Homo sapiens: one gene and its partners. The protein of the gene in region 1 purifies or fractionates together with the protein of each later gene. This does not show direct contact. Each region holds a gene or a part of one and is shown on either strand. Other genes may lie near its edges.

Region 1 (3,653 bases):
TGGCCCAATGTGGAGGGAAGAGATGTAGGAATGAATGTGTTATTTTAAAGCCTAACAGGCTTGGAAAGATGTCCTTTGATAGTAATGTTATCCCTTTGGAAATGAAGGCAAACATTTAGATACCGCTTGTGTTTTGGGAAAGTTTGATATAATTATTTCATTATTTTCCCACCCCTTTGCTGCGTGGGTTATACTCACACACTTTCCATGCCAACCTGGCAAACCTCACATCTGTACCTTCCATCCCATCTCCTTGCCAATGTCCCTGTCTTGCAGTGGGAAAAAGTCTTTTAAATGCCCTGGATTTGGCCAGGCATGGCGGCTCATGCCTGAAATCCCAGTACTTTGAGAGGCTGAGATGAGAGAATCACTTGAGCCCTGGAGTTCCAGACCAACATGGGCAACATAGCAAGATCTCACCTTTTAAAAAAAAAAAAAAAAAAAAAAAAAAAAGCTTCGGATTTAATAACTCTTCTAACAGCTTTAATATTTACCTTCTCACTGCAGTCAATGCTATTCTTTAAGAAATAGTTAAGTCTTGCCAGGGTCTAAACTGCTCTCCTGCCTCCATCTTCAAAAGAGCATTCTAAAAATGATCCCCAAAAGACTGGAAGAAGCATTTAGTACAAAGTTGGAGTGAGGAGATTCCTACTCAACCTATCCCCATATGTCAAAGGGGTGATTGTCTGAACCCATGTTTAAAGAACAAGGTCACATTGCTTCTATTAATATCATCCCATAGACTGGCCGCTGAAAATTCCTACAATGGATCCCTTGGGCACACCTTCTCCAGTCGCCTAATCCTGGTTTTCCTTCTTGCATTGCTGCAGGTCATGTTCTTTCTAAGGTGCTAGCTAAGCCTGAGAACCTTTCTGCTTCATTCATCGTCCAGGATGTGAACATCACCGGTCACTTTTCTTGGAAGATGGCCAAGGCCAATCTCTATCAGCCCATGACTGGGTTTCAAGTGACTTGGGCTGAGGTCACTACGGAAAGCAGACAGAACAGCCTACCCAACAGCATTATTTCACAGTCCCAGATCCTGCCTTCCGTAGGTCCCACCTCTTGTACTATGTCTGTGTCATTGGTATCTACTGCTCCTTTTTACTGACCTTCAGAGGTGGCTACCTCTGTCATTCTGTGTGCTGCACTATTGAGTCTTATTTTTGCATTTTCTTCTTCTGAGTGTATCTTTTGCAAGCATTAACACATCACAAATGTGACTGCATAGCTAAGAAGTAGCATAAGCTGCCATCTAGATAAAGTTTGATGGCTAGAGCCAACTCATGAAAAGACCTTACCCTATCTTGTATATAAGTGATTGAGCCATTTTCTTCTATCTTTGTTAACCTCATGTCTCTCTGGTCCAAGTGAACATGCCCTGTTTGAAGTGTTGAATTGGGGAGGGCAGGAATAGCTAAAAGAAGCTTGTTGTTTGTCCGTCTTCCCCGCAACTTCAAATTTGGCTCGAGGCTGTAATGAGTTGGCCTGTCTTCCAGGCCACTTAATTCCTTGGCTTCAAAAAAAAAAAAAAAAAATCATGTGTGGGATTTTACCCTCTCTGAAAATGCCCTTAGAATAGCCAACTACCGTTACAAAATCCAAAAAGAGGGGCAGAGAGGGAAAGAAACACAACTTAAATCTCAGAAGGAAAAATTCCATGGAATTAGAGAGTAGTTATTCTATAAATGTACTAGGTTTTATTGAGTTTTGAGAAGAATATGTTGGCATAAAAATAAACATTTTCAGTTATGGGCATTGACAGATACTGTGTTTTAAGAAAAACAGTTGGCTCATTCACTGAAATTTGGACTATCAAGAGTTCACATCACAAGATGTGCAGCTGAAGACTTTAAACCATGGGAAAGTTTTACGTTAAGGAATTAAAAAAATAAATAAAATCCCAGGAGTGAGCCCTGAGAACTGGCACCTCAGCATATTTTAACTCTGCCAAGTGTCTTAGGCTGCCAAGAATTGAGTGAGGTGCTAAGAAACCATATGGCAGAGAACCCCCACAAATGAGAAATAGTCTATAAATTAAACTATGCCTTTACAAAGCAACCAAACTTGCCTGTGTATGATATTCTCCAGTGGGGGAAAAACTGTTCTAGGCTCTCTGTGCATTGCATGTTGTCTCTGAAAGGTTGTCGGTGAGCATGCTCTTTTATGTTGTCCCCTTAGGATCATTATGTCCTAACAGTGCCCAATCTGAGACCATCTACTCTTTACCGACTGGAAGTGCAAGTGCTGACCCCAGGAGGGGAGGGGCCGGCCACCATCAAGACGTTCCGGACGCCGGAGCTCCCACCCTCTTCAGCACACAGTGAGTGGGGTGCCAGGGCATTAAGCCATCCTGTCAGGTCTTGTGGACATAGAGAAAAATCTTGCTGGAAAATGAAAACAAATAAATACACTAGTACAGGTTTCTATGAGATAGGGAAATTGTCATCATCTGAAATTCTTTCTCCCTGTTTGTACCGACTTACTAGATTCTATTCCAGGCACCTGTAGTATACATTGCATAGTTGATGCTTAATTGTTCTTTTTCTCCCTCCCTCCCTCTTCCCCGCTTTTCTCCCTTTCTTTGCTCCTTCCTTGTTTCCTTTCTCCATCCTCTCTCCCTCCCTCCTTCATTCTTCCCTCTCTTCTTTTCTCCTTTCCTCTATCCTTCCTTTGTTTTTTTTTTCCTTCCTTGCATTTTCCCCTATGTAATGCATGCTTTTTTCCTTGTCTTTTAAACCATAAATACATATGGGAAAAAAATCTGTAGTCTCATATCTGAAATATTTTTAAATCAAGATTTTCATATATCACAATATAGGAAATAATATTTTGCTAAGGAACTTATGTTCTTGTTACATAGATATTACTGTAATAAATATTATGAATTTTCTTCATGATATGACCCAAGTCCACCTACTTCATTTATTGCTAAATCAAGTAAAATTTAAAAAGAAAATTGTCACCTAGATTTTCAAAACAGCCTCTTGCTGATTTTTAAATTATGTACTTCGTTTACTTTATTTTCTAGCTTAAATTTTTTAAAAAAGTGTCTGATGACTAGTGTGTGGACAAAACATTGAGAATTAGTCATAGTTTTAACTCTGATTTTTTTAAATGATAGATTGGTATGCTTATAATTGATAACTTGGTATGCTTATAATTTGAAGAAAAACAAAAACTATCACAATGGGAGAGCTTGATAGCCTCTAAAATTTTTGTCAGATAAATGCTTTTCTGATATTCCTTCATAGAAATTCCTTTTAACAGAAGTATTTGATAATTTTTAAACTTCTTTGAGCAAATAAAAAAGGATTATGGTTTGATTGGATAAGTGTGAGCTTAAGGAAAGGAGCTTGTCTTCTTTTTCTTGTTATTTTATAGTTTGGGAAGACATCAAAGAGGAAGAGAAAAACAGGAAAAGGAGAGAAAGAGTGTGGTTGTACATTCAGATTCAGAATAGGAAAGACATGGTCATAGGAAGGAACATTTGCCAGGGTCTCGTGCTTTTTCTACAAATAAAGGTAATTCTATCATTTATTTGATACATACAAATGGATGTGACTGACATATTTTGTCACTTTTTAGGATCTCATCTTAAGCATCGTCATCCACATCATTACAAGCCTTCTCCAGAAAGATACTAAACTGTT
Region 2 (3,653 bases), on another chromosome or scaffold:
ATCAAACTTACTTGATCTCCCACGAATCCTACTGGAGCATATTCTCAAGTAGTTTCATGATAAAGGGTGTATGAGAGATCAACCCTTTATCATGAAACGCTTGAGGATACGCTCCAGAAAGATTAGAAAGCAAAGCGAGAAATAAATAGGGGATCTAACCCAGGAAAGAGATGAAGAAGTTTTCAGAATAATAGCTTCACAAATAGAGATTTTTCATCTGGATAAGAGGAGGAGAGTTCCAGAAAGAAAATCCTCTGGGAAAAAAACAGATTGAATAGAATAGCAATTGTAAATTAAACCATTTGAAATTGATGTTTTGTTGATTAAAAAAAAAATTGCTTGCTGAGCACAGTGGCTCATACCTGTAAGCCCAGCACTTTGGAATTGGCCAAAGTGGACAGGTTCGCTTCGAGATTCTGAGCCCAGGAGTTTGAGACCAGCCTGGGCAATATGGCAAAACCCCATCTCTACAAAAAATACAAAAAAACAATTAGCCAGTGCATGCCTGTAGTCCCAGCTGCTTGGGAGGCTGAGGTCGAAGGATCACTTGAGCCTGGGAGATGGAGGTTGCAGTGAGCTGAGATTGTACCACTGTACTCCAGCCTGGACAACAGAGTGAGATACTGTCTCAAAAATCAAAAAACAAAAGACAATTCTAGTAACATAATTTGCAACATTCATAATAGCTATATTCATAGCATGTTTGCTATTTGCCAAATGTAGTTTTTTTTTTTGTTTTTTTTTGAGATGGAGTCTCGCTCTGTTGCCCAGGCTGGAGTGCAGTGGCACGATCTTGGCTTGCTGCAAGCTCCGCCTCCTGGGTTCACGCCGTTCTCCTGCCTCAGCCTCCCGAGTAGCTGGGACTACAGGTGCCCGCCACCACGCCTGGCTAATTTTTTTGTGTTTTTAGTAGAGATGGGGTTTCACCATGTTAGCCAGGGTGGTCTCGATCTCCTGACCTCGTGATCTGCCCATCTTGGCCTCCCAAAGTGCTGGGATTACAGGCGTGAGCCGCCGCGCCTGGCCTGCCAAATGTAGTTCTATGTCTTGGATCTGTATTGTTTCATTTAATCCTCACAACAATCAGGAGGTAGGTAGTATTATTTTCTCCTTTTTAAGATTGATTAAAAACTGGGACAAGGTGGGCACTGTGGCTCATGCCTGTAATGCCAATACTCTGGGAGGCCGAGGCAGGTGGATCACTTAAGGTCAGGAGATCAAGACCATCCTGGCTAACATGGTGAAACCCCGTCTGTACTAAAAATACAAAAAATAATTAGCCAGGAGTGGTGGCGGGCACCTATAGTCCCAGCTACTCGGGAGGCTGAGGCAGGAGAATGGCATGAACCCAGTAGGCGGAGCTTGCAGTGAGTCGAGATCATGCCACTGCACTCCAGCCTGGGCGACAGGGCGAGACTCTGTCTCAAAAAAAAAAAAAAAAAAATTAGCCAGGTGTGGTGGCACGTGCCTGTAATCCCAGCTACTTGGGAGGCTGAAGCAGGGAGGATTGCTTGAACCTGGAAGGCAGAGGTTGCAGTGAGCTGAGATCGTACCACTGCACCCCAGCCTGGGTGACAGAGCGAGACTCTGTCTCAAAAAAAAAAAAAAAAAGCCAAAGAAAAAACCTGGCACAAAAGGAAGGTTAAGTTAGGGTTAGGTTGCCCAAGGTCATGCCGTTGGAGCTGCAATTTGAAGCCAGGCAGCCTAATATCAGAGCATAGGCTCTTAACTCTTCTGTTATATAGGCGGGAAATTGTAGGATACTTTCTTGTAGAGTCTGACTAATCCAAGCAAAAAGACCTGCGGTACTGACAGGTTACTGAACAGTTATGGCCCCTGTGCACAAGCCCTACCTACCCACTCAGCCTGTCCCATCAGCTCTTTTTGAAGAAACTTTAAAATATATCATGAATATTGGTAGAGAAATAGAGATGATAATCTGTTGGGGAAATGAGTAGAATACCATAAACAGGAGTATTCAGAGGATAGGGCTCTTGGAAATTAAGAGTGTAATGGCAGAAGTGAAAACTAGGCAGATTGGAGGATGAAGTTGAGGCTATCAGGAAATTAGAGCATGAAGGCAGGAGGTGGAAAATACAGAAAAAATGATTAGATGCTTCAGCTCTAAATAATAGACATTTTCAGGCCAGGCACAGTGGTTCATGGGCGGCTGAGGTGGGTGGATCACTTGAGGCCAGGAGTTCGAGACCAGCCTAGCTAACATGGTGAAACCCATCTCTACTAAAAATTCAAAAGTTATCTGGGTGTGGTGGTGCATGCCTGTAGTCCCAGCTACTTGGGAGGCTGAGGCAGGAGAATTGCTTGAACCTGGGAGGTGGAGGTTGCAGTGAGCTGAGATCGTGCCACTGCACTCCAGCCTGGGTGAGAGAGGGAGACTCTGTCTCAAAAAAATAAATAAATAATAGACATTTCAAAAGAACAGATAAAATGGGAGGCAGAAAATCATCAATGAAAGAACTCAAGGACATTTTCTAGAACTGAATGTTACAAGTTTCCAGACTGAAAGGACCTGCTTGCCCTGTGCTCAGCATGATGGATAGAAACAAAGCTGCACTAGAGGACAGCACTGTGAAATTTCAGAACACTGCGGACAAAGAGAAGACCTTACATGCTTCAAGACAGGAAAAAAATGACATTCAAAAGCTCCGGAATTAGAAGTGGCTTTGGATTTCATGCTATTAACATTGGAATCTAGAAGTAATGCCTTTGAAGTTGTGAGAGAAGATGATTTTCAACATAGTCTGGAGATAAACTATATTGGGCAGTTTGGGAGAAGGTAGTCAAAGGGTATGAGGGCTAATCTTTATAGATCATAAAGTCAATGGGCACTGTTATAGTTGGATAAATTAAGAAATGGCATTATAAGCACATAATGTAGAGTTATGGTAGAAACTACCAGAAGAAATAGCTGAAAAAGTTAAAAGTGGTTGGATGGAAGGGATGATGAGTGGAATATGATTGATGGCTGTTGGTTTTCATTAAGGGCCTTTTTTACCCTGTGATGTTCTAGATCTATATATATGAATTAGTTGAATAAGAAATTTTAGGCCAGGCGCAGTGGCTCACGCCTGTAATCCCAGCACTTTGGGAAGCTGAGGCAGGCGGATCACAAGGTCAGGAGATGAAGACCATCTAACATGATGAAACCCCGTCTCTACTAAAAATACAAAAAATTAGGCAGGTGTGGTGGCAGGCACCTGTAATCCCAGCTACTCGGGAGGCTGAGGCAGAAGAATGGTGTGAACCTGGGAGGCGGAGCTTGCAGTGAGCTGAGATCGCGCCAATGCACTCCAGCCTGGGCAACAGAGTGAGACTCCCGTCTCAAAAAAAAAAAAAAGAAATTTTAATAAAAACCTAAAATTGGATGCCTTATGTTACTTCATTAGGGTTATGGAAGGATCAGTGGAATAACTGATATGAAAAAGAGGTTTGTAAATTATATTCTATTATTTAGTGGAAAGTTATGATGTTACTATCATGTTGACTAAAAGGCAAAAATGCTGTATTTGGTAGATGATAATATTGTTGTATTAATTAACTGTGGCCACAATAGTGCAATCACAAAACTTGAGTGACATATGATAATGAACACTAATTTTTTGTTTTTGAGACTAGGGTCAGCTTGTTGGCTT
Region 3 (3,653 bases), on another chromosome or scaffold:
ATCCGCCTGCCTTGGCCTCCTGAAGTGCTAGGATTACAGATGTGAGCAAAACGCATAACTAAATGTTAATGGTCCTCTTTTCTCTCTACTCAGCCTATAATATGCAATGTAGCCTAAAAGGCATCCCTAGTATGGTTACCTTTTCTGAATGACCTTGTATGAGCTCCAGGAACTCAAGCCTCAATTTCTGTATCTGTGCATTTGTTCCCAGCTCTGCAACTGTATTACTTTAAGGATGAGAATAAAACTCCCAAACTTCGTGTCCCACTTGCTGTGAAGTTCTGGGAAGTACTGAGGTATCCCTGCAAGAGTGCAAGTGTGCATCTCTAGTCTATTGTAACTTGGCAGCCTGACAGGAGAAGCTCAGGGCCTCCTAAGAATATGAGAACCACCAGGATTTGTGGGCTTAAAGTAGTTAAAGCCGCTGAATGAAATAGCCAGTCTTTGGGCTCCCTCAAATCTTCCCAGGTTTCCCAATTAGAGAATGCATTCACCTGTGTGACTCACACAGGCAGTGCCACATCTGCAGTAGGATTAACTGGTGTCACAGCCCTTTCTATTCAGCATACTCAAAAGCCTGACACCTTCTGGGTTTTTTCATTGTTTCTGTTTGAACTCTCTCACTGCAGCTCTGTCAAAACGCCTTACAAATCCTTTCCTTGTGGCCTCCACCTTAGCCTTGCACCAGAATAGAGAGATGATAGACCCAGACAAGTTCTGCAGCCTCTGCCATGCAACTTTCAACGACCCTGTCATGGCTCAACAACATTATGTGGGCAAGAAACACAGAAAACAGGAGACCAAGCTCAAACTAATGGCACGCTATGGGCGGCTGGCGGACCCTGCTGTCACTGACTTTCCAGGTGAGGGGGCCTAGCTCACACCCAGAGCTGGACCAGGGTTTGGCCACTGGGGCTACCCGGACCAGCTGACGTTGTGCTTTTCCTCCTTAGGTCTTGTAAGTAGGGTTTGCGAACTCAGATGGCTACAGAAGCCAGATGAGAAATTAAAATGAGAGCCAGGAAGGGGATATGGTCAGCTGAAGAGTGAATGCCATTCCTACTCAGCTGTTACCATATCTTTCAGGTTTTCTTTTCTTTTTTTTTTTTTTTTTTTTTTGAGACAGAGTCTTGCTCTGTCACCCAGGCTGGAGTGCAGTGGCGCGATCTCGGCTTACTGCAAGCTCCACCTCCCAGGTTCATGCCATCCTTCTGCCTCAGCCTCCTGAGTAGCTGGGACTACAGGTGCCTGACACCATGCCCAGCTAATTTTTTTGTATTTTTAGTAGAGACGGGGTTTCACCATGTTAGCCAGGATGGTCTCGATCTCCTGACCTTGTGATCCGCCCACCTCGGCCTCCCAAAGTGCTAGAATTACAGGCGTGAGCCACCGCGCCCAGCCCTCTTTCAGGTTTTCAAAAGACTCTGGAAAGCCAGATTTATATAGAAATCCCTCTGTTTTTGTTTTTGCGTTTGTGTTTTTTGAGATGGAGTCTCCCTCTGTCACCCAGGCTGGAGTGCAGCGGCGCAATCTCAGCTCACTGCAGCCTCCACCTCCTGGGTTCAAGCGATTTTCCTGCCTCAGCCTCCCGAGTAGCTGGGGCTACAGGCACACACCACCACGCCCGGCTAATTTTTGTATTTTTAGTAGAGACAAGGTTTCACCATGTTGGGCAGGATGGTCTCGATTTCCTGACCTCGTGATCCGTCCGCCTCGGCCTCCCAAAGTGCTGAGATTACAGGCGTGAGCCACTGCACCCGGCCCCTCTGATTTTTAAATGTGTAACTAAATTAAAAAATTTTTAAGCCCAGCCAGGCATAGTGGCTTATGCTGTAATCCAAACACTTTGGGATGCCAAGGTAGGAGGATCACTTGAGCCTAAGAGTTCAAGACCAGCCTGGCCAACATGGTGAGATCCCATCTCTACTAAAAATTTTAAATATTAGCTGGGCATGTGGCGCATGTCTGTAGTCCCAGCACCTTGGGAAGGCTGAGGTGGGAGGATAACTTGAGCCCAGGAGGTCAAGGCTAAAGTGAGATATGATTGTGCCACTGTATTCCAACCTGAGTGAGAGCGAGAACATGTATCAAAAAAACAATTTTTTTTTTTTTTTGAGACAGTCTCACTCTGTCTCCCAGGCTGGAGTACAATGACACCATCTCACCTCACTGCAACGTCTGCCTCCTGTGTTCAAGCGATTCTTATGCCTCAGCCTCCTGAGTAGCTGGGATTACAGTTATGTGCCACCCCACATGGCTAATTTCCGGCTAATTTTTTTTGTATTTTTAGTAGAGACAAGAGTTTCACCGTGTTGGCCAGGTTGGTCTCGAACTCCTGACCTCAAGTGATCCACCCGCCATGACCTCCCAAAGTGGTGGGATTAGAGGCATTAGCCACCAAGCCCAGCCAAAAAAAAAAAAAACTATTTTTAAACCCTGTGTAAGTCAGACCTGTCTGCAAGCCAGATTTGGGCCAAGGACCCTTAGCGGATTAGATCAGAATCTCATGTTCTGATAGTTCTTACTTTGTACCTCCACAAAGGTGAACCCCTGAGAGAGAAAAGGTTGCTTCCTATCAGCAGAATTTAGACCCCTACATTAAAGTTTTGCCTCCCCCATTCTTTGGTTGTGGTTATGTTAAGGAGATACTGGTACTAAGAAAAACTACTAAAACTACACGTACACATGGTCCCCAACTTCCTATGGTTCAGCTTTATGATTTTTTTCAACTTTACGATGGTGTGAAAGCAATAGATGTTGAGTAGAAACTGTACTTCTCTTGCACTGCTAGGCAGCAATTGGTAATAAGTTTATCTAGATGTAACCCCATTGTAAGTCAAGGAACATCTGTAGAGTGAGAGAAAGCATGGAAATCTTCTGCTGACTTGCAGGATCCATTCACCACTCATTGGTAAAGGATGAATTCCTTGTTTTTACCTTTTTTTTTTTTAAGAGGGTCTCTTGCTGGATGCAGTGGCTCACGCCTATAATCCCAACACTTTGGGAGGCCAAGGCAGGTGGATCATAAGGTCAAGAGGGCGAGACCATCCTGGCCAATATGGTGAAACCCAGTCTCTACTGAAAATAGAAAAATTAGCTGGACGTGGTGACACACGCCTATAGTCCCAGCTACTTAGGAGGCTGAGGCAGGAGAATTGCTTGAACCCGGGAGGTGGAGGTTGCAGTGATCCAAGATCGCGCCACTGCACTCCAGCCTGGCAAAAGAGCAGCAAGACTTCATCTCAAAAAAAAAAAAAAAAAAAAACAGGGTCTCTGTATGTTGCCTAAGCTGGTCATGAGCTCTTGGGTTCAAGTCATCCTTCTACCTTGGCCGCCCAAAGGGCTGTGATTACAGGCATGAGCCGTTACACCCAGCCTGCTGTTATCAAGTATGCATTTAAGTCTTGCCCAAAGTATTTGTGTATTTTGGTACTTTTAATGCTGTTTTAAAATGAACATTCCTTAAAGTTGACTGGACCATTTCTAATACAATAAGGATAATTTTAAAAGACCTGGAAGAAATTCAGTTTTCATGAATATTATACTGTTAAGAGAGGGAAAAAAATATCGACCTTGATGAGTTTTTCTTACATGTGTTCTTGTTTGCTATGAATTCATTGGGAGAAAATATTTGCTGCCTTTTTACTGTGCAT

Evidence for each region.
Region 2: the proteins of ANOS1 (region 1) and NMNAT1 purify together in Homo sapiens (affinity purification with mass spectrometry; one large-scale study listed by BioGRID and IntAct). This does not show direct contact.
Region 3: the proteins of ANOS1 (region 1) and ZNF346 purify together in Homo sapiens (affinity purification with mass spectrometry; one large-scale study listed by BioGRID and IntAct). This does not show direct contact.

Annotation. Positions count from the first base shown.
Region 1 is NC_000023.11:8,532,989-8,536,641, reverse strand, and holds part of ANOS1 (anosmin-1 isoform 1 precursor), read left to right. Parts: intron 1-830; coding exon 831-1,051; intron 1,052-2,181; coding exon 2,182-2,323; intron 2,324-3,588; coding exon 3,589-3,647; 3' UTR 3,648-3,653. UniProt on the Homo sapiens protein: Has a dual branch-promoting and guidance activity, which may play an important role in the patterning of mitral and tufted cell collaterals to the olfactory cortex. Chemoattractant for fetal olfactory epithelial cells.
Region 2 is NC_000001.11:9,967,346-9,970,998, forward strand, and holds part of NMNAT1 (nicotinamide/nicotinic acid mononucleotide adenylyltransferase 1), read left to right. Parts: intron 1-35; exon of another isoform or gene 36-113; intron 114-3,653.
Region 3 is NC_000005.10:177,050,074-177,053,726, forward strand, and holds part of ZNF346 (zinc finger protein 346), read left to right. Parts: intron 1-629; coding exon of another isoform or gene 630-677; coding exon 678-863; intron 864-3,653.